Linked DNA regions of Homo sapiens: regions 1, 2, 3, 5, 6 and 7 are each linked to region 4. Evidence: fine-mapped expression QTL. A gene starts in region 4. Each other region holds a variant in brackets. All regions are shown on one strand. Distances are between the middles of the regions. Region 1 has its middle 47 kb from the start of KCNJ18. Region 2 has its middle 210 kb from the start of LINC02002. Region 3 overlaps KCNJ12 (potassium inwardly rectifying channel subfamily J member 12). Region 4 holds the start of LINC02693 (long intergenic non-protein coding RNA 2693). Region 5 overlaps LINC02693 (long intergenic non-protein coding RNA 2693). Region 6 has its middle 160 kb from the start of LINC02002. Region 7 holds the start of LOC124903954 (a long non-coding RNA gene).

What was found. PIP is the estimated chance that this variant, and not a neighbour inherited with it, causes the effect.
Region 1: its variant is fine-mapped to the expression of LINC02693 in pancreas (GTEx, PIP 0.93).
Region 2: its variant is fine-mapped to the expression of LINC02693 in whole blood (TOPMed, PIP above 0.99).
Region 3: its variant is fine-mapped to the expression of LINC02693 in whole blood (TOPMed, PIP above 0.99).
Region 5: its variant is fine-mapped to the expression of LINC02693 in whole blood (INTERVAL, PIP above 0.99). The same link has a PIP of 0.9 or more in monocytes.
Region 6: its variant is fine-mapped to the expression of LINC02693 in whole blood (TOPMed, PIP above 0.99). The same link has a PIP of 0.9 or more in blood mononuclear cells and monocytes.
Region 7: its variant is fine-mapped to the expression of LINC02693 in whole blood (INTERVAL, PIP above 0.99).

What each region holds. Positions count from the first base shown.
Region 1 is chr17:21,736,897-21,741,233 of GRCh38, forward strand. No RefSeq gene overlaps it. Among named protein-coding and RNA genes, the nearest start is that of KCNJ18, 47 kb to the left of the region's middle. The variant C/A (reference allele first, on the strand shown) is at 2,328.
Region 2 is chr17:22,054,224-22,058,560 of GRCh38, forward strand. No RefSeq gene overlaps it. Among named protein-coding and RNA genes, the nearest start is that of LINC02002, 210 kb to the right of the region's middle. The variant A/G (reference allele first, on the strand shown) is at 2,424.
Region 3 is chr17:21,403,126-21,407,462 of GRCh38, forward strand. The region is part of intron 1 of KCNJ12 (potassium inwardly rectifying channel subfamily J member 12); the gene reads left to right. Among named protein-coding and RNA genes, the nearest start is that of KCNJ12, 29 kb to the left of the region's middle. RefSeq lists enhancers at 1,114-1,613, 2,021-2,521. The variant G/A (reference allele first, on the strand shown) is at 2,346.
Region 4 is chr17:21,549,186-21,553,522 of GRCh38, forward strand. It overlaps LINC02693 (long intergenic non-protein coding RNA 2693), which reads right to left and starts at 2,493. Exons shown (of 2, transcript NR_160801.1): 1 at 1,811-2,493. RefSeq lists a silencer at 2,387-2,556.
Region 5 is chr17:21,540,978-21,545,314 of GRCh38, forward strand. The region is part of intron 1 of LINC02693 (long intergenic non-protein coding RNA 2693); the gene reads right to left. Among named protein-coding and RNA genes, the nearest start is that of LINC02693, 8.5 kb to the right of the region's middle. The variant G/A (reference allele first, on the strand shown) is at 2,192.
Region 6 is chr17:22,104,556-22,108,892 of GRCh38, forward strand. It overlaps the pseudogene UBBP4. Among named protein-coding and RNA genes, the nearest start is that of LINC02002, 160 kb to the right of the region's middle. The variant T/C (reference allele first, on the strand shown) is at 2,495.
Region 7 is chr17:22,438,673-22,443,009 of GRCh38, forward strand. It overlaps LOC124903954 (a long non-coding RNA gene), which reads left to right and starts at 1,469. Exons shown (of 2, transcript XR_007065672.1): 1 at 1,469-1,569; 2 at 1,661-2,379. The variant T/C (reference allele first, on the strand shown) is at 2,266.

The sequences.
Region 1 (4,337 bases), 190 kb after region 4:
AACCAAAACCAAAAAACCAACAAAACAAAAAAGAACCACAAAAAAGATGTCATAGCAATGCTGTGTGTACGGGAATCTCCAGCAGGACACACAAACAATCCAGCGCTGACCTCTGGAGAGAACCGAGAGGCTGGGGATGCGGCAGGGAGGGGACGTCCACTCCGTGCCTGGATTCCTGTGAACATGGGGCCGTGCACAGTGCCCACGAAAATGAAAATGAAACCTGCCAGCCTGCTGGCCAGGGACTTGTAGTGAAGCACAAACACCACGGACGTGACTGTTGCTGGTGGAGGTTGCAGCCTCTGGATGCCTCAGTGGCGCTGTTCTTGCAGCTGAGCGGAAATGCCCACAGCGTCCGCATCTGGCACGTGCCCGGGGGCCTGCAGCCTCAACAGCCTCAACCCGGAGATACTGATGGTGTGGAAAGGCGGAGACACTGATGGTGCGAAAAGGAAAAGGCGTCTGGGAGGGCCTGTGAGCTGGAGGGCAGCCATTGGGGAGGTGGAGGAGAACCGTGAGGCGTGTTTCTCCGCATGACAGATGTCACCTGAAACCACCCGGATGCTGGCCAAGGCTTTGGCCTCTTCTTGCTGCCTCTGTATTTCTGAAAATGCATTGCTAATGGGGTGAAGGGACTCACCCTCAGGCCTGCCGCCCCACCAGGCTGGGCCAGGACACCAGGCACCCGGCATTACCCCATCACAGCCCCAGGCTGCGTGTGTGTGTCTGGGCGTATCTGTATTTGCATGTCTGTGTCTCTGTATCTATGCAGGTATAGATATGTATGTCTCTATTATCTATATTTGTGTGTCCATGTATATGTGTGTGTGCCTATGCAGATGTGTCTGTATGTGTGTGCCTGTGTGTCCATGTGTGTCTGTGTGTACTGATGTGTGATTGTATGTCCCTGTGTGTCTGTATGTGATCATGTGTGTCCATGTGTGCACGTGTCCGCGTCTGTGTGTACTCATGTGTGACTGTATGTGTCCCTGTGTGTCTGTGTTGTGCATACCCATGTGTGTCTGTGCGCACATGTACATATCTGTGTGTAGTTGTGTCTGTGTCCCTGTGCACCCTTGTGTAGCTGGGTCTGTGTCCAGCTGTGTAAAAGGCTTCAGCAGGGGAAGCTGGGCTCTGCCACAGGCCCTGATGAGAGTCAAGGCCATAAAACAAACCCTCTGAGCCCCAAACACCTGGTCCTAGGAACGGGCTGGACTTGGGAGTAAGTCAGCCCAGAGCGACTGTGAGGGCCCCAAGCCTGTGGGAACAAGAATGAAGAGGAGTCCTGGGTCTGGGGTCCAGGCCCCTCCTCAGCCAGTACTGAGAGGGCAAGAGAGAGATCATAGCAGGCTCTGCTGACTGGGCTGATTCTCTGCCCTGGAGACTGCAGGCCAGGGGTCTCCCTCTTGGCCTCCCCTGCCACTAGGTGATGCTCAGGGCTGGGGGTAGGGACAGACACTTCATGCCCTGGAGCTGCCTGACTGGCCCTGGCTGTGCCTGCTGCAGAAGTGGTATCAGCTGACATCATGAGGTGTGACATCACTGAGGCCTCCTCGAAGTTGAGTCTATTACTGTGGAAGAAGCCCATCAGTCCTCGTCCTCAGGAAGCTCATGATTCAGGCAAGGAAAGAGGCCCACAGCCAGACCACTCTGATCTGTGCAGTCAGGACATGGCCACGGAATCAGGCAGGATCCAGCCAGGAAAAAGAAGCCCTCCAGTTCTCTCCAACAGAGAGAATTGCGTCTAGGGAGCTGGTCACACTGTGATAAAGGCTCTGAGAGCTAAACGGGATGAGGAGGAATCCAGGATTGAAATCAGCAGGAAGCCGCCATCCCAGGCTGGAGGCAGGGAAGAAAGCAACAGGGTCACCAGTCCCAGGGGCTGTGTTCATGCGAAGGGAGCTGGAGCCTCGGCAGGGGTGTCTGGAGCCATGGGGCTGGTGGGGGCAGGTGGCCGCTGCTAGGAGGCCATCCGAGGAGAGACATAAGGAGAGACGTGCCCCGCTCCCCCACCACCACCAAGCGCAGAAGCCTGAGGGCAAAGGATACTGGGAAATGACCTGAGGGTCAGAGCAGGGGCCCATGGGGGTGGGATGGGGCCCACCTGACAGGCTAGGATGGGAGCACAGCTAGGCCTGCAGCAGGCCCGTCCCCAGGGGCCTGCTCAAACCACAGCCTGCCACTCATCCTAGCAGGGGCCTGGTCTACAACAGGTGCTCAAAAGCATGAGTCGCACAGTGAGTGGGTGCAGAGTGGGAGATAAAGCCAGGTGGCTGGGGCCCCAGATGGGAAGGAGAAGGAAGGGATGGACACTGGGTGTGTCCATG[C/A]CGAGACCTCAGAGGCTCTGAATGCCAGCTTGGGTTTGGCTGAAATCTGAGGGCTGGCACGTCCCCAAACATTCTCTCTCTCACCATAACTTGAAAATGAGTAAGATGTTTAGCCCTAAAGCATCAAAGCCCCTGACTGCTCTTGTTTCTGTCCTAAGCTAGACAGCCCAGTGTTCATTTCCCCCATTCTCCAGACAAGGAAACTGAGGCACAGAAACATGGAGGACCTTGACCAAGTGACGAAGTGACCTGCCCGAGATTTCAGTTAGGGGTGGCACAGCTACAGCAAGGGGCGGTGGACGCCCACCCACCCCCGACTTTCCAAAGGTGGAGAGATTGCTGCAAACTGCCAGCAACTGGTGACAACCAGGAGAATGTGGTCAAGACCGTTCAGTGACCTTTCAGTTCTGCCTCGTTGGGTGGCAACCGTGCTTCAATCACCAGTGTTTTTCTCCAGACAGAATATAAAGAAGCAGAAACCTGTGATAACGCATGTGCCATCTGTGCCCCAACCACATCCTCTTGCCAGGGCCACAAGCCCTTGCAGGACTCAAGCAAGAGGGTGGATAAGGCAGGCCAAAGGGGTGGACACTCCTGACTCTAGGTTTCAATTTCTTAAGAAAGGCTGGAAATCAGGACTTTTTATGGAAACAAATCTTAGATTTGAAAATGCTGGCCCCTAGTTGGAATGTTTAAAGTATGTGGAATGAATCCATGGAGGCCAGGCTGAGTGCCTACAGTAGGGGCCAGGCCTGTGAGCTCTGCCAGCTCTGAAGCAACTTTCTCAAGTGCCAAGCACATGCCGACCACAGGGCATTTGCACTGCTGCTCCCTGCCTGGAAAGCTCTTCCTGCTGGCATCTTGTGACTCATCCCGCACTGTCTTCAGGCATCTGCTCAAATGTCTCCTCCAGGAGGTCTTCCCTGACCTTTTCCTTCCCATTTCGCTGGTTTATTTTTCTTTACAGTGCTCACTACCACCTGACATCTCAGTGTTGTCCCGCTCCCGATGAGAACATCAGCTCCGTCGTGAGGGCAGGGTCCTTGTCTTAGGCATCCCTGGATGCACAGGGCCTGCCCAACCCAGAGCAGACACTCAGTCAACATTTGATGAATTCATGGTTTAGCACTTCAGGACCCCTGAGGCATGGCCACGGGGACACAGGGCACCCAGGACCATATGCATCACAGACGTGATGTCTGAAAGAGAAGCCAGCTGAGCAGGTTCCAGCCCTTCCCACCCCACAGACTTGCTGGGAGCTTTGGGAAGCCCTGACCCTCTGGAGGCCTCAATTTCCCCACCTGTGCAGTGAGGAGGTGATACATGCCACAGTCTCAGGAGCACTCATGGGGTCCCAAGGTGGCCATCATTGCTGGCTTCCTCAGCCAAGCAGAGGGACAGATAGATTGATCAGCTCCATATTGATCGCAGGGACGCAGCTGCTCTGGAGGGGGCAGGAGGAGTGGGAAGCTAAGTGGAGCCAGGACCCCTGGAGGAAGGAAAAGCAAATGCCACAGCCCCATCAATGCCTGGGACCAGGGGGCGGGAAGGGCCGTGATCACCCATCTGAGGGTTTCTTCCCCTGTCACCTAGGGGTTCAGAGAAGCTCAAGGGAGCTCCAGGGGAGCCCAGGCCAGGGCGAATTCTGAACATGGCAAAGAGACCTCCCCAGCGCACCCTGAGGAGGCCATCTCAAAGCTTCCCCGCTTCTAAGTCATGGAGCAGCTGAGGCCGGGGGCTGGGCCAAGGGAGTCCCAGGGGGTCCCTGCCCATTCAAGCCATGACATTTCTTGGATGCCGTTCACTGAGTCTGGAAGTGTATGCAAGGCTGGCATTCTGCTGCAGAGTCCACTTGAGGCTTGTTTTCATACAAGAGCCTCACGTCCTGCCCTGGATCTTCCAGGAAAGCCAACGCCCAACAGATGAGATGCTGGGAATGTGGCCAGCTCTCTCTGGGAGTGATATCCCCATGTGGGACATGCAGCTACAGCACAAAGAACCAGGACCTAG
Region 2 (4,337 bases), 510 kb after region 4:
CTACTTCCTCCCCATCATGCTGCAAATTGTCTCTCTCACTAGACCTCCAGCCCCTAAAAATCAGGGACAGCTTAATGCATGTTGGAAATGGCTACTCCTCACTTAATTACCCTAATTAGCTAGTTATATTCCTTTATATTTATGTTTCCCCATTTATTGAAGCTTTCCACAAGCCAGGCACTGAGATCCAGGGGAGGACAGGGGAGGACCCTGAGGGTAGGACAAGCATGAGCACTGAAGGCTACAATGGCACAGGCACCAACAGATCATGTGGGGTGCAGGAAGCCTCATCTCTAGAGTGTCTTCCTGGTTTACCATACGCTTTCTTCCCTTCCCTTATTGGAGTCACCTTGTGCTGACTTTGATAGCCTGTGTCCCTGAAACATGCACTCCCACACACACAAACCGACCCACACCTATCCACATGTACCTGCCCATACATACACAGACCTCTCTGTGTATCCCCCAGAGCTACAAATGCCAATCTTGAGAATGAAGATTTTGCAAGTGCTCTGTGCCAGGCATGATGCCAGGTCCCTGACAACAAAAGACCCCTCTGGTTTCTCCCACTCAGCTGTGCAAGGTTCGGGGTTGAGGAGCTCCCCCTGCCAAGGTCACAGACGTGGAACATGAGGTAACAGCTATTTGAATGTAAGCCTGTAGGTCACCAAAACATAAGCCATCTGCACCCCACCACACTGCCTCCAAAGCACATGAAGCCATGAGTCTATCAACTGTGACTCATTAGTAGCCAGGAATATTTCCTCCTCCACTTCGCTTCCCACTGCCACTCCAGTATCTCTGCCCACAGTCCCAGAGCCACCTCTGCTTAACGGGGAGGTCAGGACTGATGCTCCATTCCACCCAATGCCATCTCCCAGGGTGCAGCCTCCTCACAGGAAAGAGGACTACCGTGGCTAGTGGTGACATGGGTGGCTCTGGCCTCCAGGACTTCTCCCCAGGACCTCTGCTCAGGACATGGCACGGACAGAGGTGAGGTTGCCATAAAACTGCCTCGGAAATGACTACAAACCAGCTCAGACCATTCCAGCACCTAACACGCTGACAGCCCACGGTGGGCCCACAGAAGGGGAAGGGCTAGGGAGTCCAGGGCCGCAAGAGTTCACCCTCCCTGAGCCCTTGAGCACAGCCACCCAGGTGTAAAGAACAATATGGGGGTTCTGGGGATTCCCAAGCCTGGGCCCTAGAGGTGAGTTCTAGCAGGGCCCCCAGATATCCTCCCCATCCATCCCCTCATCCTGTCTCACATATTGTAAAAACAAGGAAACTGAGGCCTAGAGAGGGAAGGGGCTTGAGGAGTCTCCCAGGCAGTTAGAGACAGAGCCCAAGTGAGAATCTGTGTTTCTCTCATTTTTTTCCCCTAGGTCTGTCTCTGACTAGCTATGTGACCTTGGAAGAGGCACTCCACCTCTCTGGGCATTGAAGGTTTACAACTTCTGACATGTTCATTCCAGAGGGTTGTCAGGACCTGACAGCCCTTCACCTAAACAAAACACTCTACAGTCTACTAATATTCGTATATCTCTTATCTTCTCTGACCTCTGTAATACCCCTATGAGGCTGTGAAAATTGGTGCTTGTGTCAGAAAGACAAAGATCACGCAGAAAATTTGGGACAGGACTGGAACTAGAACCCAGGTCTCTCAAAGCAGGGTCCTTGCCATCACTAAGGCTAGGAATACATTAAGACTCCAAAATATGGAGAGTTGCTCAATGCATGCCACCAAGGTTAGAGCTGACCAACCCCAGAATGCTCAGCGGCTCTGAGACCCTGGAGTGGCGGACTCAAGGCAGAGGGTGATGCCGAAATCACACACATCTGAGCTCCAATCCAAACTCCACTACGCAGCTGTGTGACCCCACTTTATGAGGCTCAGCATTCTCTAGTACAAAATGAAACTACAGAAGGTACCAAAAAGCTCAGGATGAGGGGAGAACTGCACCCTGAATGCAGGACTGCCAGGCAGGTGGTAAGCACTCATTAGCTTCTGTTTCAAGCACACAAATCATATGTTGTTTTTCATCATGTCTCCCCATGGTGTCTGGTCTATGGCTCCAGAACCAGGAGGCTTCTGATCAATCCTTATGCTAAATGATAGACAGATAGATGGGTGGGTGGTTAGACAAATAAATGGATGGATGCATGGATTGATAGATTGATGCTGGGATGAATGGATGGATGAATAGATGGATGAATGGATAAATGAATGGATAGGTGCTCAGAAGACAGAATAAAACAGGGATTCAAAATGAAAATAACAAGATGATTGAAGGATGGGGCTGGTACATGGAAGAGAGGTACAAGATCCAGCCCTTCTGGCTCTATTCAGCCCTACAACCACATACCTTGGGGTAGCACTGGCACATGCTCCAGATTATACCCCTGGATACCATGATGCTGCC[A/G]CAGAAGGTTTCATTGAACTGGGGCCCATCATGGCTCAGGAGGAATGTACTGAGAGCCAGGAGAAGACTCATACATTGAAGCTGAAGCAGAAGGTCTTCTCGTCTGCCAAAGTCTCCTCAGCTGCTATGGCTGCCAGCCAGGCCCTGGCCTGTGCACCCCTGCCAGAAGGGGCCTGTGCCATCCAACATAAACATCCAGACAGGCTCACAGGAAGAGATGAAGCTCTTGGATCACTGCAAATCAAGGCTTAAAGTTAAAGGGAGGGCAAGACCCCTTCAGCTCCAGGCCCATTCCCTGGACCCACCAGTGCAGCAGGGCTGAAGGCAGCATGCTTCGGTGGACCAGTGAACCCACTCCCCACCCTCTCTCCTTCCCTTGGGGCCCAGAAGGCCTGGAGTACATGTGTGAACATGGGTGAGGGAGCATGCAAGGGAGGAACAAGGGGAGGTTACAGGGGCTGGGCCCCAGGCAAGCCTGTGACAAAACCTTCTTTGCCTACTTTGGGGCTGAACTGAGTAAACAGCTGATCCCACACCTTCTAGCCCCGGGAAACAGGGTACAACTCTGCAGCCAAAATATGTTAGAATGCTGCCAGAGGATTTCAGGATCCCACTGCCAGGCATTTCAGGATCCTAGATTTTAGACCCTTCAAGGATATGTGTCCATCTGGGATTCAGGCATGATGGCCCATATGTAGTGGATGGTGATGATGGGCATGACATCATTCTAAGCATGTTACAGCTGTTAACTCACTTAAGGGACTGCATGAGGCAGGTATTGCTACACCCACTATGCAGAGGACACTGAGCACAGACAACTAACTTGCCCAAGGTCACACAGCTGGAAATGGTAGAGAAGCTGGAACGTGAACCCAGAAGCTGTGCCCCTGGCCACAGGGCAATCCTGCTTAATAGCAGCACAAGGTTATGGGTGAGAGCTCTGATGGCAAGGCAGGCTGCCTGGGTTTAGATCCTGGCTCCTGTACTGCGGGGCAGCGTGGTCTTGATCACATTACCTGCCTGTGTCTGTTTCCTCCTCTGTAAAATGGGGATAATAACGGTACCTCCCAGCATTGGCGCTGTCTCCAGGCCTAGGTGTCCTGGATCCTTCTGCCCCCTTTACACTCTGTGCAGCATCCAGACCTGCTTGTAATGAGCTCCTCTACTCCCCCACCAAAGCTCTGGTGAATTAATGTCCCTGTGGGGTATAAGTGACTGATAGTAACTTCCTCAATCTCCTTGCAGCCTAATCTAAGAAGATGCCTTCTAAAGAATAGCATTCTAATGTGAAATTTTTGTCCTGTGAAAGGCTAATGGGAGAAATCAGATTCCTTTGCAAGGTTACAGAAAAAACAGGACAATGAGTATCTCTAAGAGAGAATGCTCACTTTGAGTGTCGATGGGGTTAGGTGGCCAATACAGGATGAAAGGCTTTCATTTGGCTCCCTGACCTGCTGGATTTGGGGATTTCCCTGGACCTGGTCATTACCTCTTTCCTCCTGCCCAGCATGTGCTCACACCAGCCCCTCTGCCTCATAGTCCTTCCCACAGGCCTTTTTTCTTACATTTTTTTAGAGAAGGTAAGCTCAGAGGGACTTTTAATATGCCAATCGATGTTAAGAAAACACAAGCCAAAGACAAGTGCAAACATGCTTTCAACCAACATTAATGAGGAAACAAGACACAAATTCTTTTTCTTTTTATATTTTATTTTTGAGATGGAATCTCACTCTGTCGCTCAAGCTGGAGTGCAGTGGCGTGATCTCCACTCACCACAAGCTCCTCCTTCTGGGTTCACGCCATTCTCCTGCCTCAGACTCCTGAGTAGCTGGGACTACAGGCGCCTGCAACCACGCCCAGCTAATTTTTTGTATTATGGTAAAGATGGGGTTTCACCGTGTTAGCCAGGATGGT
Region 3 (4,337 bases), 150 kb before region 4:
TTTGAGCTTGGAGGATGCATTGCATTCTGAGAGGCAGAGAAAGGCATTTCATGGTGAGGGGCGAGCTCTGGCTGAGGCTCTGAGGTGTGGGACATTCCAGAGACATTGGAAGCCCAACCCTAGCTCTCTGCTCATTCCTACTGTGTCCTTTTTTCTTATTGATTCATAAGAACTCTTTATATATTAAGCACATGGGTCCGATTTAAACAAACACATTATTTTTCTTTTATTTTACTTACGATTGGTTTTGACAACATCATACATATTTTTATGTTGGCAAATTTCCCAGCCTTTCCTTTGGTGGTCTTTCTGGTCCCAGGATGCTTCTTGTGTCCTTACCTTGTGTCCTTGCTCTCCTGTGCACATGCTGGCTGCTCAGGACATGTCTGAGACTCAAATTAAGTTGAAGCTGGAAAATTTACAGCTGTATGAAAATCAGAAGCCAGGGTGCCTTTGCTGACCTGTGCCTCCCGCTGGGGTTCCTGCCCATCATTCCTTCTTGCTTGGAGTGGGGTCCAGCTGAGGCCCTAAAGGGGCCTGTGACTCTCTGCAGGGTGAGGCAGAGGCTCATAGCTGTGATGAAGGGAGAGGGTGGGAGGACAGGGAGTTCCCAGCTGGCCAGTCTCCATGTATTCACTCATGGAAACCCCATTGCAACCACATGAGATAGGTGCTATGATTAGTTCCATTTTATAGGTGAGAAAACTGCGGTTCAGAGAGGTTATGTGGCTTGCCCAAGGCCACACAGGAAGGGATGGAGACAGGATTTGAATTCATGCCTTGTTGCCCCAGAACTCTTATAGTTTCAAGCTCTCTTATGGCCCTTGGGCTCCCCATTGCCTTTGGGATCAAGTCTAGGCTCATTAATATGACATCCGAGGCCTCCTGGGGTGATGCCTCGGCCTCTGTGCCTGCACACGCTGAGCTTCCCTGATATGATGGTGGCAAGGCTGTGCCCATCTCTTCACACCTTCCCCACAAACCCCGAATAGTTTAGATCCTGGAATGGAGGGCTGGCAGGGCTTCTGTGGAGTAGCTGGGCCAGCCCCCTGGTTTGCACACAGTCAGGGTGGGTCTTGCCCAAGGCCTAGTGCCTGGAGAGTGAAGCTGGAATCTGCACCAAGACTGCAGGACTCTGGTGCTCCTAGCTGTGTCACTGTGCTATGGTTGGTCTCAGGCGGGGTTCTCTCCCCTGCTGCTCGCTGCTGCCTCCCCACTGGCAGATACTCCTCTAGGAAGCACCCCTCCTGCCACTGGGTTAGACACCTCGCCTGGGCTCCCGAGGGCCCAGCGAGTTGTGACTGCTGACTTCTCACCGTCTGCCCTGTGAGGCAGGGTGCCCCATGAAGGCAGGCGCCCAATGCTTCCTCTTCAAGTCCTCGGTGCCCAGTGAGGACTTGAAGAGGGAGACCCAGAGAGGGACAGAGCCCTGCTCCAGGTCACACAGCAAGTTGGGGCAGAGCCAGGAGTCCTAGAAGGGCCCCAAGACCCTCCAGGTCTCCCCTGTTCCTAGGACTTAACGGAGCCCAGGGATGGGGCAGTGTCTGCGATGGCCACCCCAGCAGAGGGCACTACTGTAGGGCCTCTGTTCTCTGCTTCTCCCAGGGGCCTGGGGCCAAGGACACCCTCTCTCCCTCCTGCCCCCACCCTCTGTGAAGAAGGATGTTCTCAAGATAGAAATACCGTCAGAAACATTCCCTGGTGTTTGGTGTGACTGTCGTCCACTCTGTGGGGCCAGAACCTTCTGACCTGGCCTCACCTCAGGGCTTAAGGGTGGACGTTTGCCTTTTCTGGCCGCTTGGTGCAGCCTCTTTCTGGGGTCCATATGTCCAGCCCCCATCTTTACGCCACGGAATGTGAGGGGTCAGTGTCACTCAAGGTTCCTGCAGCTTCCACTTTCTGAGCATCCTCTGTGGGCCGGGCGCATCCCGAGCATGGAACAGCGAGGCAGATCCTGCCCTTGTGCGTTTTGTGGCTCCTTGCGGGCCAGGGGGGCTTCTGAGGACATCCAGCAGGCCACAGGGAGGCTTGGGCACAGCCAGCTTTCCGTCCTGTTGGGAAGCCTGTTTCTGCTTTCAGTGCCCACGTGGTGTCAGGAACGCCGGTCACAGTGAACGCCTGCAGGACCCACACTGCTGCATCGTCTCTGTGGGACAGATACTGAAGCCAGGGCTTGGCTTACCCTTGTGACAGTCTCCCGAGGTGTGTGGGGTCTCCTCATTTTGCAGATGGGGAGTTTCAGGCCCCAGTGAGCTGGGGGGCTGCCAGGCCTCTCCAGGGAGGGTGACAGCTGCCACCTCCCAGAGACCCGCTGGGGCGAGGCCCAGTGCCCGGACTGCAGCTTC[G/A]TCACCACCTTCAATTTCATGGCACACCCTCTGAGAGGCCTGGCAGGCGACACCAGCCTCGTTTTTCAGAGGAAGCTGAGCCTCAGGAAGGGGAAGTGCCTTGCCCTGTTCCGTGGGGGATTTCAGCCCCAGCCTCAGCCCAGGCCCTGCCCTCCCCTGCGGGACGCTGTGGGCCAGCCCGGCCTGTTGGCCCTCAGTCGTGGTCATGGGGAAGCACTGCCCCTGCAGCCCACCTCCCCATCCAGGATTGTGACCATAACCCCGGGAAGCATTTGTGGGACTTGGCGGGGTGAGCTCACATGGCGGCTGCTGTGGCCCCTGCAGGTGGCGGGAGCTCTGGCCAGGGCATGTGGAAGGCTGGCTCCTGTTTGCAGGGTCCTGCCCTGCACTGTGACTTCAGGAAAGTCTCTTCTCTGCTCTACGTCTCAGTACCCCTGTGTAGAATAGAGCTAATTTTGCCTTCCTCCTAGATAAGAACAAATCCAGCTGGATTTGTGGTCTGGGGAATGCCCCTTCCAGGTAGTAGGGAGTGAGGGACGAGGTTGGGAGAGCCTGCTGCAAGCCAGGTGACCAGCAGGACGTGGATAGGGGCTGCTGCCCACACTTCTGGCCCCCACCCCTGCTTGGCTTCCCATGGCCCTGTGGCAATATCCGACCTTCGCTGCTCAGAGTTCCAGCTCCAGGTGACTGGGCAGGTGACTTAGCTTCTCTCAGCCTCAGTTTTCCTATCTGTCCAGAGGGGAGAATTGTCCCTCCTCCAAGGCAGGGCTGTGAGCATCGGGATGACTGCAGCCAGCTGCCAAGCATGCAGGGCTTGCACAGTGTTGGCCCACTCGGGGAAGGGGGTGGACCCAAGTCCCTGCCGTGGAGGTCCCCAGCTGTGTGATGTTGGCTTGTGACAGAACCTCTCTGAACCTCTGCAGCTCATCCACCTGTCCATCCATCCACCCATCCATCTCTGAACCTCTGTGTCCCCATCAGTTTTGAGGATGGAATGGCTGAGAGAGGCAAAGTGTAGGCCTGTGGCTTCTGCTCCCAGAATGATGAGGGATGGGGAAGAAGGGGCTGGGGATTGGGGGACTTGGAGGGTGAAGAGGGACTGAAGGGCCACTAGAGACCAGGCAGGCCATCCCATTTCAGAACAAGCTGAGAGAGGGGAAGTGACTCACTCAAGGTCACACAGCTTATGAGGGGCAGAGCTGGGATTTGAATCTAGGTCTGTGTGCCTCTAAACCACTGTCACCTGTCCCAGGAGGCTAATGAGGTGGGGGTGACTTACCAACATTTGCCTTAATTCCAGCCAGAAAAACCAGTGTGACAAACCAGCCTTGGCTGTAACCTTGGAAAGGGCAGGCCCCATGAACTCCCTGGCTGGGAGGTGCGGAGGTGAGAAGCATGTCAGGTGGCTCACCGTGGAGATCCTCAGAGCCCCTTCCCACCAACCTCTTCTCTGATTCTCACGGCACACTGGATAGGAAGGCAGGGGGATCCCTTTGACAGGTGGGGAAATTGCATCTTTGGGATTGCAGGGACCATGTAGGATGTATGTGTACCCAAGGCAAATCTCTGGCAAATTACTGATGTGTGCCCATCCACGTAGTTAGCCATGTGCCCACCTGCTCATCCATCTAGTCATCTATCCTACTCGCCCAAACACCCTATCCATCCATCTACCCACTCATCACCCACCCTCACACCCATCCACCCATCCATCTATCCATCTACCCACCCATCCACCCACCCATCCATTCACCCATCTATCCATCCATCCACCCTTCCATCCCTCTATCCATTCATTTCTCTACCCACCCATACACTCATCCACCTGTCCATCTATCCACCCATCCACTCATCCACTCATTCACTCCACCCATCCATCACCCAACATTCCATCCATCCATCCATCCATGCACCCATCACCCATTCATCCATTAATCTGTTCATCCACCCACTCAACCATATACCCACCCATCCACCCAGCCATCCCTCTAT
Region 4 (4,337 bases):
TAGCAAGAACAAGCAAGGGCAGGAGATGAGGCTGAAGAGGCAGGCACCAGGTTGTCTGAGCTTTTATTCTACTGCAATGAGTAGATAGTGGCAGGGTTTACACAGGGGTGGGGGTATGCCTATATCATGTTTTAACATTTTCAAGAGATCACTCTGGATGCTTGAGTGGAGGCTGGACTGTAGCAGGGCAAGACAAGATGCAGGGAGGTTGGAGGATTCTTGGCAGTAGCCCAGTAGGAGAGGAAGGTGACTGAAACTGGTTGTGGAAATGGAGATGGTGAATCAGGATGCTGGTTGCACTCAAGAGCCACAGGACTTGCTGTGTGGTTGCATGGGGGTTGGGGGAGAAGGGAAAAGAGTCAGGGATGACTCTTGGTGCTCCCCTCAGGGAAGAGGCCCCAAGCCTAGTGGTTATCAACAGATGGATGGTATTTAAAGCTATGAGACTGTGTGGGATCATTCTGAGAGGATCACTAGAGATCTGGTGGAGGAGGAGCAGGAGGATGAGGATAAAGGTGAGAGGGAATCCAGGAGGGAAGGTCCCTAAAATCCAGAAGAAAGGGTGGAACTCCTCAATTGTATCGTCTGTGTCAAATGCAGCTAAATGACTGAGATAAAAGTCGTTTCAGCAAAGTACCTTGGAGGAAAGCTGGAAAGGAGTGGGTGCAAGAGAGGACATGAGGTGAGGAAGTTGCATGGAGCAGAGAAACAGAATGGTAAATGGAGAGAAACCTGGGGTTAAAAAAGGTCTATTTGTTTAATGCACAGCATTAAGGAATGCTTGTGTGTGGACACTAGCAAAAAATCAGTACAGAGAACCCCAGAATTCTGGGGTCATAGCCCGAAAGGACTCCTCAGCTCCAAATTTACTTGAAGTTACAGCTTCCATCTTTAAATTAAATGGGATTTTTTTTTTTTTTGCCATCTATTTCATCATACAGGATGTGACACAGAATATATCTGAAAGTATAACTTTCCTGGAAGAACACATCTTAGTTTTTAATATCTAAACTGTATAGCAGCTATTTATCTCACAAAACATTTTTCAGGCTGAGTGCGGTTGGTGACTCACGCCTGTGATTCCAGCACTTTGGGAGGCCAAGGCAGGAAAATTGCTTGAGTCTAGAAGTTCGAGGCCAGCCTGGGCAATGTGGGGAGATGTAGTTTCTACAAAAAATTTAGAAATTAACAGGCATGGTGGCACAAACCTGTGGTCTCAGCTACTGGGGAGGCTGAAGCAGGTGGATCGCTGGAACCCCTTTCGTGGTGCAGTTTGGGCAAAAGAGCAAGAACCTGTCTCAAATTTTTTGGCTGATGGTTGTAGACATAATGTTTGAGCTTTCAAAAATTACAACATTTTAAACTAAATAGTTTGCTGGAAAAAACCACATGTTCCTTCCAGAAACAACTGGTAGACCATCAGGATCATGACAGTCACTTCAAAAAGCTTTGGTGTGTTGACAAAGGGGAGGTTCACGTGTGATGTTGCTGGTCGCACAGCTACTGCATCCAAGGCAAATGCATGTTAACAACCATATCAAATGTGGGTGACCAAGTGGCAACATTTAAGCATTTTACATCCTAACTTATGTGCAACTTAAACCTACTGCCACACTGTGAGTTAGGAAATTGGTAGGTTTTTTTCTATTGACTTGTTGTGCCCTATAATTTTTCCTATTTAAAATAATGGGAAACAAGTTTTCAGTTTTTTTCTCAGAAAAAGTCTGACATTTCAGGCACAGATATGTCTGACAGTTATTACCAGCAGAAGAGTTTCTAGCCTTTTCATCGTAAAATTTTAATTACTTACCTTGGAAATTACTTAACTTCGTTCCTTCCAAATCTGGTAGTAAAATGGGTGCTCCAGAAAGCTGTGGCACGGATATTCTGCTGCTTTGCTCGTCTCTGCACAGACCTGGGGCTTGAGGAGCCTGCAGCCACGAAGTACAGGACGTCATCAGAATGGAAAAGCGATCCAGATGGTCCCGCAGGCGCAGTGCTGGGGCGTAAAGTGCAGCCTGTGCACGGCGGGTGGGAGGCGCGCGGGCTCGCCGGGGCTCGGGACTGTGTTCTTGCAGCCGAGAGGCCCACACAGGACAAGGAGGCCTGACCCAGGCTGTTGGAGCCCGCGAAGAGGGGGTGAAACTCCAAGGGGCGTAAGGGTGATCACACGTGCGGCCAAGCTTCCCGTCTGCATGGCGAGGGGCTGGGCCTTTCCGTCGTGATTTTTCTCCCATTATGCCGGGCGCGTAGCGGGCCCTGGGGCGGCGGGACCGGTGCGGGCGTTCAGTCAGCCCGGGGTCCTGGAGGCCGGCGGGGGGATTCGCAGCAGCCCGAGGGACGGATGGATGGCAGAAAGGAGTCTCTACTTCCAGGTTCCCAGTGATCGCTATGTTCCTTACAAGCAGTAAACTCACGACTTCAGACACCCGCCACGGAGCTCCGCGCGCAGTCCTCAAACAGCCAGCCACGCCGGCCGGGCGCACAGCGCATGCCCCGGGGTCGGGGCGGGGCGGAGGAGACGGGGCGGGGCGGAGGGGACGGGGCGGGGCGGAGGGGACGAGGCGGAGCCGGGCGGGGTTGAGGGGACGGGGCGGGGCTTGGCGGGGGCGGAGCCGCCCAGCGCTGAATCCAAATCGTATCTAAGCTATTTTCTAGCTCTGACATCGTATACATCACTGCATACGTGAATAGCATGCCAAATACTGTATAAACCAATACTGGTTTTTTTCTTCTCGGGAGGTACTATATAAATAAAGCACGTACACGGTATCTAATATCAGAACATTCAAATCCCATATTGAAAAGATTATAAATTGACCATAATCCTATAATTCTGTTTAGCAACAGTGCGTTCCTTCTCAGTCTTCACTTTTAAAATATCTAAGAGGCTCGATGTCTTGAGGCTTTTTCTTTTTAAACCCAACATCCTTTTTCACATTTATTAGTTTAGTACTTTGGTTTTACTCAATAAAAAGGTGGGGTTAAAAAAATCTGAATTATTCTGCAATGTTTCAGGCAACAGAGGCTGAAAACAACACTGTTAAGGCGGGGGGACAATTCTTATACTCTGTGAGTCTTCTTGTTTAATTTTCATTAAATTTCCAGAATAATAAGCGTAGGATAGCTAACGTTTGTCTTTGCGTCGTAGATTAGTTAACCTTTACTGAATTCACAATATGGCATCAGAGATTTAATCTGCATTTCCTAATTCTTATAAATTAAAGCTGAAGTTTAAGCTTCATTCGCACGTCACAAATACCACTTGCCCTGAATAAATAATGTTTTTAGAAGTGAGCATTCCTGATCTCCCTGTTTGTTAAGAATTGTCTTCTTTTTTCAGCTGCTACTCTGCTAAGACAAGAGTTAGCCCCTGAGCTATGTTATCAGTTCAAGGCTTTGCAGATAGCGCTGTATCGTGGGGGAAAAATGAACATGGTTTTCAAAAAGGAGGAGAACATTTCTATAACGTTGAGACTTTTAGTAATCAGGGCTATTGATGTCAGATGGCTGTTGGGACAAATGACATCATAAAAAATACAAAATTTAAAATTATGTTTGTTTATGTTTGTTTGTTTTCAGATTTCTTAGTAGTAAAGGGGCTGTGTTTTCACTCAGGCTTATATGATGATGACATTTCTCAGACCAGCAGCTATCTGCTAGCATTCTGTCCTGGACTTGGGGTGCACCTGTGACAGTAGCTGGGCTTGTCATCCAGTGAATAGCTCATAGTTGACTCCTCTCCATCAGTATAAGCATGGGTGTGGGTGACTGCATGGTAGAGGGGGCCGGGGTAGCCAGGGACCAGAGGTTAGTGAACCATTGGGTAAGATGTATAACTGTTACTCAGGCTCATAATTTTTCAACTTTTTCAGATAGTAATAACAAGAAAGTCCATCCTTACCAGTGTCAGTCTCTGTTTTAAGTGTTGTTCATATATTACCTCATTTAATTATCACACCAACCCTATGAGACTCAGAATGTAAATAGGCTACTGAGGTCACATTGCTGGTGGATCTTAATCTCAGGCCAGCTTGGCTCCTAAGTGTGTGTTCTCACTCTATTGCCTCTAGAACAGGAAGGAATATATGGATACTGTAAATTGTTAAAGAACAAGTTGAAAGAATTTTATTTCCGGCAACATGGGCTGACAAGAACCAGAAAACAACAAAAACTTCTGGAATACATATCAAGAACCATTTTAAAAAATGTATCAATGAGCTGCAAAATAATTAAGAGTTCGCAAAGGCAAAAAAATTAAAATTAAAAAGTGAAAGTAGAAACCCAAAGAAGTAATTAGATGCCATTTTTCACCCTTAAGATAGTTGCCAAGTGTC
Region 5 (4,337 bases), 8.2 kb before region 4:
AACCCTTGGGTGAGACCCCCTAGGTCTTCCCATTTCTGCCTCAATTTGGTAAGTAGTAAGACTCTTATTTCTGACGATGTGATTTTATTTCCCAGCAAAGTCCTCCCCAAACCAAGGCCACAATAACTAGCACGGTGCTCTGCACATCATATGCACTCAGCACTTGTGAAATTGAGTTGAATCAGAAACAAAACGAGGAGCAGAGGTCAAGTCCTGCAAAAGATAGTAAGTAAGTAAGTAATGTAAATAACGCAATTAAGACTGAAAGGCTACAGCTCGGCAGCAAAGACTTCACATTCGTTTAAGAAACCATTTGCTACTAGTTCATCAAAAGACGTTGGTTTCATGCTGTGGTTCTCAATTCTGGCCACACATTGTAACCAGTTGGAGAGCTTTAAACAGCAAGGATGTCTGGATCCTACCCCAGGGATTCTGATTTCACTGGTCTGTTGCAACTTGGGTTTTGGGAATTTTAAAAGCCCCCTGCCACCCAGGTGATTGTAAGGTGCATCAGGGGTGAGAACCTTAGCTGTGCCTGATTTCCTTGTGTGCTGCGGGGATTTGCCTCATCGCAGCATCTCAGCTTTGCGGGGAGGGGTGGTGGGCAGTCTTAGAAAACAGCTCTGCCCTGTTAAAATCAAAGGACGGCTCAAGACGTGCTCAGCTGCTTGACTAAATTGCAGCAGGAGGAAATGTCTTTTCAGCAGATCTATCTTTACATCACTTGCTTTCAGAGTAAGAGGTTGTTTTGGGCACAGCATTTTGATTTAGTCTGTGTTGAAGACCAGTAATAGCCTACAAATACCAAAATGGGATGAAAAGAATTTCCAAACATGTGAAGTGCTTTATACGTGTTTCTTCATCCTTCCCTGTGTCTACACCCTTTGCAATGCGCTTTTACAGCTGCTCCCATCCAGAGTTAGAATCTGTTTCCCAAGACTTGGATCCAGCTGGCAGTTTTGGGCCCAGTCTCAAAAGGTCTTGAATGCTTCTTCCTTTTCTTTCAGAACCGTGCTATCTCCGTGACAACAAGCCCAAGTTAGCCTGCTAGAGGATGAAACACTTTGCGGAAGAGAACCAAAGTTGCCCAGTCCACAAGCCAACTCACTCTCAACAGCAGAGCTGTCTGGTCACCAGCAGCTGACCCCCTTCTCCCATACACACACATGAAGATTGCTATACCTTATAAAGGTACGGCAGGTTTTATAGGTATAGCAATTAATTTATGGCAGGAGCCTGCCATAAATTGCTGACTTGCTCAATCATGAGCTAAATAAGTTTTGGGATGGCTCATTACACAGTAACAGCTAACTAACACACCCAGAGCTGACAGGATGCCAGGATTAACAACATGCTGACTACAAGTTAGCTGGCACACTATAGGGACCGTCTAGGTACTGAATTCCTTTTCCCCTTATTAGAAGTTGGGTCCCTTGAATTATAAAGAAATGCATGTAGACATGTATGTGCTTAAAACTCACACAGTATCACACAACACAGGAGGAAATAGATGACAGCCTGACCACTAGGGCAAAGGCCAAATAGCAAGGTAAGGCATTTGTCTGGAATCTATTCCCTCCAAATCTAAACTCTGGAGGTCAAGGCTGTGGACAGGACCCACCTCCTGGGACCCCGCTGTCCTCTGATCTCTGGAGGGGAGAATGGCCCCACCAAGCAGCAGATGGGCAGCAGTGGCCTACCTGTGGCCACCTCCTGCTGGCAGCCCCTGCTCTCTCAGGGCACTCTCTCTTCCTTTGGGACTGAGAAGAGATGTGGGTAGGGAGGGGGAGCTCCCTCCCTCCTGGCAGAGAAGTGGGGTTCAGGCCCTTCACCTTCCTGAGTTCAGGGAGTCAGAGCCCTCAGAACATCTGGAATCTGGCTGCTTTGAACTGAGATATGCTAGAAGTGTAAAATATGGAGTGAGTTTTAAAGATTTAGGACAAAGAAATGTAAAACGTTTCATTAGTATTTTTATACTGATCACACATTAAAATGATATTTTGGATACATCGGGTCAAATAAATTATATTATTACAAATCAATTCCATCTGTTTCTCTTTAGTTTCCTTAACCTGGCTAGTAGAAAATTTAAAACTACAGGCAGGCATAGCTCATATTCTGTTTATATTGGACACGGCTGTCTTAAAGGACTGCCTCCTTTCCGAAGCTCAGGCTGCCTCCAGTCATGGTG[G/A]AAGGGGAAGTGGAGCAAAGAAGAAAGGAGGTGGGGTGCCACGCGCTTTCACAACAACCAGCTCTCATGTTCCATAGAGCAAGAACTCACTCACTACCACCAGGACAGCACCAAGCCATTCCTGAAGGATCTGTCCCCAAGACCCAAACACCTCTCACTAGGCCCCCCTTTCAACATTGGGAATCAAATTTCTTTCTTTCTTTCTTTTTTTTTTTTGCTAGAGGACAGGAAGGTTATAAAATCTGAAAATTTTAAATAATTTGTCATTTTGTTGTTTCCATTTGTGAACAAAGGACTTAATAAAAAATTTAAGATTTAACATTAAAATAAAATACATTCATTTCAATATCACGCTGGAATTCAACATTGTTTTGCACGGGGGCTGCAGAAACAATGTAGAGCTTCTTCCTCCTCCAGACCCTCACAGCTCAGCAAGCCTCTCAAGGGCTGGTTGCTGGCCACTGCGTTTCCAGTTTTTGTAGGTTCTCTTCCTCCCAGGTGATTAAGGAACAAGGCCAAAGGTGTTTGAAGCTTTCAGAAAACACAGGATTTTTCTTTCTGTGGCTCACCAGCATTTTCATTTCTATATCAGCAACACCATATGCAGGCCACAGCTGAGCCAAAACACATAATGAATTGAGTCTGAAATCAAATTGTACCTAATATTTACAGCCATGTGCATTACTAAAAAGGGGCATATCTTCCAACAATTCCAGTAAGTTCCCAAGACTTAGTTCACACTGGGTACTAGCCTGTGATGGTGCCCCTGTGCTTGTTACTGGGGGCAAAATGGGACAGTGTTTGCTGAGTTCATGGCTGAGGGGCTGCGGTGCGATGCAGAGAGCAAAACTTCCCACTGAATAACACTCCTATGTGAGAGCGGCATGGCGGCCAAGGTCAGCTGGCTCAAGGCAACTGCCTCCTTTTTTCCTAACAAGCAACATTTTCAGGGAAAAACCCCAGCTTCAATGTAGGAAGGTTTTGATGGTGGCTCAGGCCTCGGACTGAATTAAAAAGGAATAAGGAGATAAAATCCATATTTTAATTATAAACAAATGTCTCACTGAAAAAATTCCAGACCCATAAATCCATCTATGTATTAGTTATTGGAGTAATTTAAAATGTGAGGAAATTATAAAGTGTGTGTCCCTTATTATATATTTCTTCCCCCCACCACTTTTTGAACATCTAAAGTTCCTAACACATAGATACTCTTTTATGAGGAAAAAAAAACCTGTTGACATTGATACAGTTTGAATATTTGTCCCCTCCAGATCTCATGTTGAAATTTGACCTCCTAGTGAGACCCTGTCTCTACAAAAAATTAAAAACTTAGTTGGGCATGGTGGATTGAGCCTGTTATCCCAGCTACTCAGGAGGCCGAGGTGGGAGGACCTCTGGAGCTCCAGGAGTTGGATGCCACAGTAAGCTACGGCTCAGCTCAGCCATGGCTTCTATAGTGAGCTATAACTGCGCTACTTCACTCCACCCTGGGTGACAGAGTCAGATTATCTCTTTAACAAAACAAAACAAAACAAAACAAAACAAAACAAAACAAAACAAAACAAAACAGAAGAAAGAAATTTGATTCCCAATGTTGAAAATGGGGCCTAGGATGGGTGTGGTGGTGCAAGCCTGTAATCCCAGCACTTTGGGAGGCCGGGGCAGGCAGATCACAAGGTCAGGAGATCGAGACCATCCTGGTTAACACAGTGAAACCCCGTCTCTACTAAAAATACAAAAAATTAGCCCGGCGTGGTGGTGGGCACCTGTAGTCCCAGCTACTCGGGAGGCTGAGGCAGAAGAATGGCATGAACCTGGGAGGCAGAGCTTGCAGTGAGCTGAGATCATGCCACTGCACTCCAGCCTGGGTGACAGAGCGAAATACCATCTCAAAAAAAAAAGAAAGAAAGAAAGAAGAAAGAAATTTGATTCCCAATGTTGAAAGCGGGGCCTAGTGAGAGGTGTTTGGGTCTTTGAGGGCAGATCCTTCAGGAATGGCTTGGTGCTGTCCCAGTGGTAGTGAGTTCCTGCTCTATGAAACATGAGAGCTGGTTGTTGGAAGGCACGTGGCACCCCACCTCCTTTCTTCCTTGCTCCACTTCCCCTTCCACCATGACTGGAGGCTTCCTAGGGTCCTCACCAG
Region 6 (4,337 bases), 560 kb after region 4:
GTTATACTCAGCAGTATAGTGACACTTGATTAAAGCCATTATAAAGGAAACATAATCCCATACTGATGATCTTCACATTTCTTTGGGTTAAAGACCAGTTTATTTCATTGAGATTACAGTTCAGGAGAAAGGTTATTGACTACATGTATCTATAGTATTGTCTAAGCAACAGGAGTTTAGTTTGCATGTTTAGTATTTTTGAGAGCACATCAATGTAATGAAATGTATTTAAAATTATGCCCATATATACATAATTATATATATTTATTTATATATTTTTTACAACAGTGTTTTTCCTTGGAGATGATTCAATCAAATTGCAGCAGAGACACTTCTAATTAGTTATTAGGAAGTACAATCTAGGATTGTTTTCCTGAACGTTTGTGACTAGCAATGTTCTCTTACAGACGTGGGGGTCTGGACACTTGGACCTTAAATTGGAAATGGTTAAAACAGTGTTAGCCAAAGAATGACAATGGTTTGTTTGCCAAGTCTTTTTGTTTTGTTTTGTTTTGTTCTTTTGAGACGGAATCTTGCTCTGTCACCCAGACTTGAGTGCAGTGGCGTGATCTCGGCTAACCGTAACCTCTGCCTCCCGGGTTCAAGCAATTATGCCACCTCAGCTCCCTGAGTAGCTGGGATTACAGGCAACCGCCATCATGCCCAGCTAATTTTGTATTTTTAGTAGAGATGGTGTTTCACTATGTTGGTCAGGCTAATCTTGAACTCCTGACCTCAATGAATCCATCTGCCTCAGCCTCCCAAAGTGCTGGGATTACAGGCGTGTGCCACTGCACCCAGCTGCCAAGTCTTTTTGTGTTAGTATTGCTGTTGAATATATCTGGTGTTTTCATTCAAGAAAACACTTAAAAGCCATTTTAGGGGCTGGGCGCGGTGGCTCACGCCTGTAATCCCAGCAGTTTGGGAGGCCAAGGCGGGCGGATCACCAGGTCAGGATATCAAGACCATCCTGGCTAACACGGTGAAACTCCGTCCCTACTAAAAATACAAAAAATTAGCCTGGCATAGTGGCGGGCGCCTGTTGTCCCAGCTACTCGGGAGGCTGAGTCAGGAGAATGGCATGAACCCGGGAGGCAGAGCTTGCAGTCCAGCCTGGGCGACAGAGCCAGACTCCGTCTCAAAAAAATAAAAACAAAAGCCATTTTAGGGTAAAAGAACCTTTCTCAGAACTATCACTGTACACATCTTCCTGTTTCACTGATCCCTCTTCTCTCCTTTAGTTTTAACCTTTTGTGATAGCTCTTTATGCATCTTCTTCTGAGGTCATTGAAGATGTGTTCTGTCTTACTGGTTTCTGTTACCACTAAGTACTTCTTATTTCTAAACAGGTGGTTTGATTTTATGACCACTCAGACAACTCTAAGTAAGATGCAAGCATGTGCTACTTCTCCCTACTCTACACTCATAAACTTCAAACAATTCCCTCTTCTGTCTGCATCTTCCGATAAGGATATAGACTTAGAACTTTTAAAATCGATGGCTAACCACTCTTTACTGCAAGAGTGGTATACTATATTGGACCATGATTATGGGCAAGATCACCTAAACAGAATGGATAACTTTACACTCTGTGTAAGTACTCACTAGGCACTCTCCTAGTAGTGTCTCTACTTGATAGAGCAAAGTAATAGAAGAAAAATGAGCAACTTCATTCTCATGATTTCTAATATGTCATCATAAATATGAGGTCCTTCATTTCTGTTAAGTAGAAAACCAATGATGATACTGCTTACAGAAAACCATCTGTCCATCTTCATCTGTATCAACAAACTTCCAGGCAATTTGCATTGGCACAAGCTGTTATTTGTCTTTGCTAATGTTTAACAATAAAATTCTCAATGACATACTTGATACTCTGGAAAGATAGTATTTTTATTCTTCACAGGGTAGAACATGCATTACAAATTATGTAATTAGTAAAATACGTGCAATGAAATGGTTTCAATTTCCTGTATGAATAGTTTTTATGATGGTTATCTAATAATCTAAAATATTTATATTTCAATTAGTGTTTTACTTAATACTTTATTACTTCCTTTTAATCAATCAAAAAGGAGGTATTACCTGTCCAAAGGAAGCTTAGCTATGTATTATGCATTGGAGACTACATTAAGGAATTCACTAGGCAATGAGTTCTAGGTGTTAAAAGGGGCATTAATTTAAAAAAATATTAAAGATGCGAAATTTTTAAAGCCTCAAAGACGTGAATAAAAGGTTTAAAGAAGAAAATACTGTGTTGATCGAACAATATTTATTTTTTCCCAAATGACTAAGCTTTCAAATCAGGGACTAATCATGAAAGACCACATGACTTATTTTTAAATTAAAAACGATACTGAAATATATTTTTCTGGTTGAAGAGAGCTTTATTCTAAAAAGAAAAAATGTCTATGAAGCAAAAAAAAAAAGAAAACATATGCTCTTTTCTTATGTTTGCTCAAGCAGAATTTACCTCTGCAACTCGTATAATCAG[T/C]GCTATAATTATGTACAGATATATTTTGATACTTCAAAGCATCTATAAAATTCCCTAAATGAAAATTATTTTAGATTAAATATATTAATGACCAAGACAGCTTTTTTTGTTTATAAGCAAATTAGATTATATTGCTTATGAAAGTTTTTTATATTTTTATTCCATGGATCATGCAAAAAATCATGTTAGACAATGAAAGGATATCGTGTTTTCTCCTTTTTGCCTTATTACCATTTTTTTTCTGTGCTTAGTTCTGCCTTTGCTGTATAGTGTGGAAATATAAAAAATTACAAGAATTGCTCAGGTGTCTTTTTCAAACCTCCAGGTTGCCAATATATTCACTTCATCACTCTTATCTGATTCCCACACATTCCTCTATGATCCTACAGAGCAGTTACGTTTCTTATAAAATCTAACAGACCACCCAACTATGGTTTGCAACATCAAACCGTCATGCTTCTTGTACACAATATATTAGAAAATTGGGTTTTTACATATCAGAGTAGAAATATATTTCACACATATTTGAGGCATACTGTTATATTCCTAAGGAAATAATATTTTATTTAATTGAAGCCACATGATTTTTACTATGATGTAATTACTCACTGACCACCAAGTCTACAGACAGCCTTTACCAGAATCAAGATACACATAGGTAAATTATTTTGAATATCTTTTGAAATCTGGGGTGCTCAATTTGATCCATGCAGATTACCTTAATTAGCATACATCTATTGGTCATTGGCATACTTTTTAAAATGAGATATAAAATTATACAAATATCTGTAAGTTCTCTACAGCATCTTTTCCTAGCAGCATTTTACAGCGGATAAAGGAGGTTGCCAGTAGATAGACAAAACAAAAAATAGAAACACTTCTTAAGCATACTTTTTTTTACATGTCATAACATGAATCTACTATCTTTTTTTATTTTTACTTTTGTATTCTGAAAAAATGTTAAAATTGGTTATTACCACTGTCTCTCTGTTCTTTCCTAATAATGTCCTTTTCCTCTATTGTCAGCATTTTAAAAAACATTCTTGATCTCTAACACCTTTCTAGAAAATTCTGACAAATTAAGTGGCAGCTAGAACAAGAGGAGATTTAAAGAATTATTGTTGACAATGAAAATAATGAAGTACATATTTAGCATGGGCATGTTGCATGTTGACAATATATCATTGCATAAATGTTTGAAATATTTTTCCTTTATGAAGTAATTGTCATCAAGATCGAAGCTATTGAATATATTTGCTGTATAACTTTGTATAAAATAGATTTATATTGCTTTGAGCTGAACAGATATTTGCAATGAAATTGTCCTTGTCCATGTTATTTTAATTTTGTCTACTGTCATTGGCAGAAATGTATCTAATACCTTATCTCTTTCCCCAAATCACATACAACTGAAAGATGCTAGATGTTAAGAGTTCTGGTAAAGTAGTCTTCTAAAATCCTTTTTCATTTGTCTAGAGAAAAAAAAGTACCAGAATTCAGGACAGATTTTTCTTCAAGGTATCAAGAGTAGACCATATAGATTTTTTCAAGTAAATTTCTAAAGCTATATTTTAGAAATCAAAAAAGAAATATTTGCATTAAAACCATTATTCCCTTAAATTTTTAGAGGATTCTGTTTGACTTTGGCATGAGTAAAGTCCATTCTCTTATTTGCAGTGCTATTAGATATGAGGAGTTTTAGCAGAGATCCTGGAACAACTGCTGCCTATCAGGGTGTGAAATCAATGACATGGATTCCTGTAGAAACTATTTACTTTGCTATATCTCCTCAATATATGTATATACAAACAAGATCTTTGACGCTGGCTTGAAATCCACAGCA
Region 7 (4,337 bases), 890 kb after region 4:
GCTACAGTGGAAAAAAGGAATGTCCTCTCAGAATATGTCATCTGCCCCATGCAAAGACTCTGGATCTCAGAAGTCCTCCTGGTAAGGACTCGGAGCCAGACAACTTCATTTCCTGTCACCTGGGCTGCTCTCCCTCTGACAGCTATGGAAATTGGTGAAGCACAGGAACGTATTGGAAATGGCAATGATGTGCAATGCCAATGTGTGGAAGTGTACAAGTTAAGTAATATTTTAAAAACAGAACACACAGCAGTTTGCACAATCTGATCAAAGCTCTGTCATGTATGTTTCTAAACAAGTTTGGAAGAGAATTTGGAAATGGCTGAATTTTTTTAATAAAGCTCATGTTTTTAGTTTGTTTAAATGTAAAAGCATACACTTAGAAACAAGTTAGTACATAAGAATTTTTAATCTTAGCTATCTGGAAGCTTCAAATACCTAGAATGAGGCATTTCCCAAAGGTCTCTGTAACTTGAATTTTACCGTAGTTTGAAAACTCTTGCCAGGCATACTGGCTCACACAGGTAATCCCAGCACTTTGGGAGATTGAGGTGGGCAGATTGCTTGAGCTAGGAGTTAGAGACCAGCCTGGGCAACATGGTGAAACCCCATCTCTACAAAAAATTTAAAAATTAGCTGGGAGTGGTGGCACTGCCGTTTGACACAGCTACTCAGGAGGCTGGGGTGGGAGGATCCTTGAGCCCGGGAGGTCCAGGCTGCAGTGAGCCATGATTGCATCCCTGTACTTCAACCTGGGCAACAGTGCCAGACCCTGCCCCCTCCCCCAAAAGAAAACTATTAGTTCATAGTGCAGTTGATGAAATAATGTACATCCACAAAGAAAGGAGCAACCATAATATGTATATAATTACTCAGTATTAAAATATTGTATATAGTATTACATATATAATATTGAATACCTATAATGAATGGGGCACTGCTTTAAGCACTGTATACTCATTATCCCACAAGAATTCCTTCTCGGGTAGGTCTTAGTATATTCAATTTAAAGGCTAATTAGTAAGCAATACATAGAATTGAACAAGAAGCTAAAACATAGAAGGCTCTCGAAAATACAATGTGGAATGAGTAATGCAAGTTACAGAGATACATAGCACATTTATAGAAAGTGTAAAAACTTACAAAGTTAAACACTATATTATTTAGATAAACAATATATTATTTAGAGATGTTATTATGTAATAAAAGTATAAAAGTCAGGGAAATAATATGTTTTGTAAAGCTTCAGATGAATGATTGTCCTAGATGGGGAGGCAAATGGTTACATTTCCAAAGGGCCAACCATGAAGACGGCTTCAAATGTAGTGGTGTAGGTGATGGATACAATGTATTTATTTTACTTTTATGTGAGTCTGTGTGTATGTATGTGTGTGAGTGTGTGTGCAATTTTGTATGTATAAATATGTAGTAATTTTTTTTTGAGTTTGGGTGTTTCTCTGTCTCCCAGGCTGAAGTGCAGTGGCATGATCACGGCTCACTGCAGCCTCCACCTCTCAGGCTCAAGTGATGCTTCCACCTCAGCCTCCTGAGTACCTGGGACTACAACTGGTAAATATTTTGCTATTATAGATTCGGCTATCATGTTCTGTTCAGTGCCTATTTCAATAGCCTCTCTGCCTTAATTCACCTTCATCTGCAGTGGGACACAGTACTTCTTCTCTAGGCTACCCATGGGGTACCCCAACAGCGTTGCCACCACATACAATCTTCATAGAGCTCTTAACTGCATCCAGCTTTCTCCAGGAGCTCAGGATGCCCCAGACCCTCATCGCAGACAGCATTGCCCTGGAGCTTATGGCTGGAGATGATATCACCACAGACATCCCCAACCCAGCCCTGTCCTGGGAGCAGGATTCTGGCCTCCCTATTAGGCCTCAGAAACTGGCTGACCACCTGGCTTCACAAACCTGTGTGTTTTCAGGGAAAATTTTGATCTCTACAAACCATGACATGTAGAGAGGGACACACATCTGATTCAGCAGTCCCTGATCCGCTGATCCATGGACACATTTGCCCACAAGGAATAACCTAGAATTTCTCTCTGGTGGAGGTCAGGGGCATTACATGAGCTGAGTAGAGCTTAGTTTTTAATCACTAGACATAGGCAAGGTGTTTAAGTTATTACGCTTCCAAGCAGCATGGTCCTCACTCACTCAAGGTGAGATAAATATTGCTGCAAAGGAACAACAGCTGCATTGTTGGAGTTTTGCTTTTGAGGCGTGTGTGTGTGTGTGTGTGTGTGTG[T/C]GCATTTGTGTGTGTGTGCGTGAGTTGATTTCTTTCACAAAATACATTTTCACATACTTCCTTACTCCAATCTACATTGCCCCTTCCTTTTAAATAAATTTTTTTGAAAACTAATAAGCCTATTTTATTTATTTACATTTTTTATTTACGTTTCTTTACAAACTGTTTGCTATTAGTCTACAGTGAAAAGTCAACACTTTATAAAATAAGATTAGCATTTAAAAGCTTCTCAATTCTAATACTTTGAAAGGCTACACCCATTTTCAGAAAGTCTGGGCTATTCAAAATATTTTACAAAATTCTGAAACTTCGAAAAGCTGCAAGATTTGGAGACAGCAAGATGAAGTGTTTTTTCTAACAGCCAGTTTTGTTCACTTTATTATTAAATATGCACTTTTTAAATTAACAGCTTGAATTCTAGAATATATTTTTGAAAATCACTAATGATTTTTGTAAAAATAGAAAATCTGTTGTACCTTTATCTTAAAATTCACTTCTTATCTATTTTCTAGATTTGATGTTTTGTCATTTTAAAGGATACTAGACAAGAGGATCTCAATTTGGATCACTATATTGGGCTCCTAATATCCTAATATAATTTTAAATCATCTCAAACAATGCATTATTACCATATACATCAGCATTTCCCAAACTGTGCTATAAGCTATGTATACTTTTGCTATTTTTGAGCTAAAATATGCTTACAAATATATAAAAATATAAAAATATATTTAGGTGTTGTTATGCAATAATGCACTTTTCAAAAAGAAACGATATACCAGTCTCAAGAATACCCGGAAGCTGCATGAAAATTCTTGATTCCTTTTATATATAGTGACAGAAAAAGATGTAAATCTAACAATTGGTTATTTTTATTGTTTAAAGTTTTTTCTATAAGCACATGTGAATTAAGTATTCATTATTCCATATTCCTCATGTCACCGACGCTGGGTGCCCACAGCACTGTTTTTCTAACACTGCAGCTGTGGGACTGAGGGTGGCAGACCAGACACCTGCACTGAGCCACATTCGTCACACAGTTGGACCAGCCCTGAGCCGGGGGCAGAAACATCCTGATGTGAAAAGCTGTTTGCTAAGTACAATGACCACACGTTTCGTCTATTTTGAATACACCATCACAACAAACTCTACACTCTTGACAGATGAGACAGGCAGATATGATCTTTGAACACAAGTGAGAAAGACGTTCACACAGACTCCCATCCTCCCTCACATGACTGGAGGATTAAAATGGTGGTGGGGGGTGGATATTCAGCTCAGGGGCAGATTAGTGACACTCTCACAGCTATTTTAAGATACGAAATATTTATATGATCCTATTCCAAACCCTAATACATAAATAATGAACTCAGAACTGTACACAAAGGGAAACAAAAAACCACTCTGACAGTGTCCAGGTCCCTCATAAACTTCCCAGAAGTCAAGGAGGTCAAGGCTGGTCTCAAACTCCTAGGCTCAAGCGATCTGCCCACCTGGGCCTCCCAAAGCTCTGGGATTACAGGCATAAGCCACCAAACACAGCCTAGTACGTTCTTTCGATATGTTTGGAATGAATGTGTTTCCAAGGATAAAAGCTTACAATGACATCTTTCTTACCTGTAAGATACCCGAAGAGCAGAGAGAGGGTCCCCAGGCTGGCTAAGCATCCAGAACACTGGGGGAGCTTTAAAAACATAGATATAAATTATTGTATTTCACCCCTTACTTACTGAATCACAATCCCAGGGATGGAAGCACCCAGAGATCTGTCTTTTTAGAACTTCTCCAGCTCTCCAAGTGGTGCTGACAATCAGGCAGATTGAGAGCCAGTGCTTCAGGCAGCTCATCCCAGACCTCGGGAGCAGGGGAGTCACCCAGAGCTATGTCAGACTGAAGGTTCTGGTGCATCAGGGGTGGGGAGGGTCTTGAGAGTTGGCCTTTCCAACAAGCTTCCCAGAGGGGCTGCTTTGCTGATCCTCACCAGGCTTTGAGGGTGCACAGCACTCTTCCTCTAGGTGTGTGTCCACATACCTGGCACATTTGTTGTTGCATTGCCCCAGGTATAAAGTGCA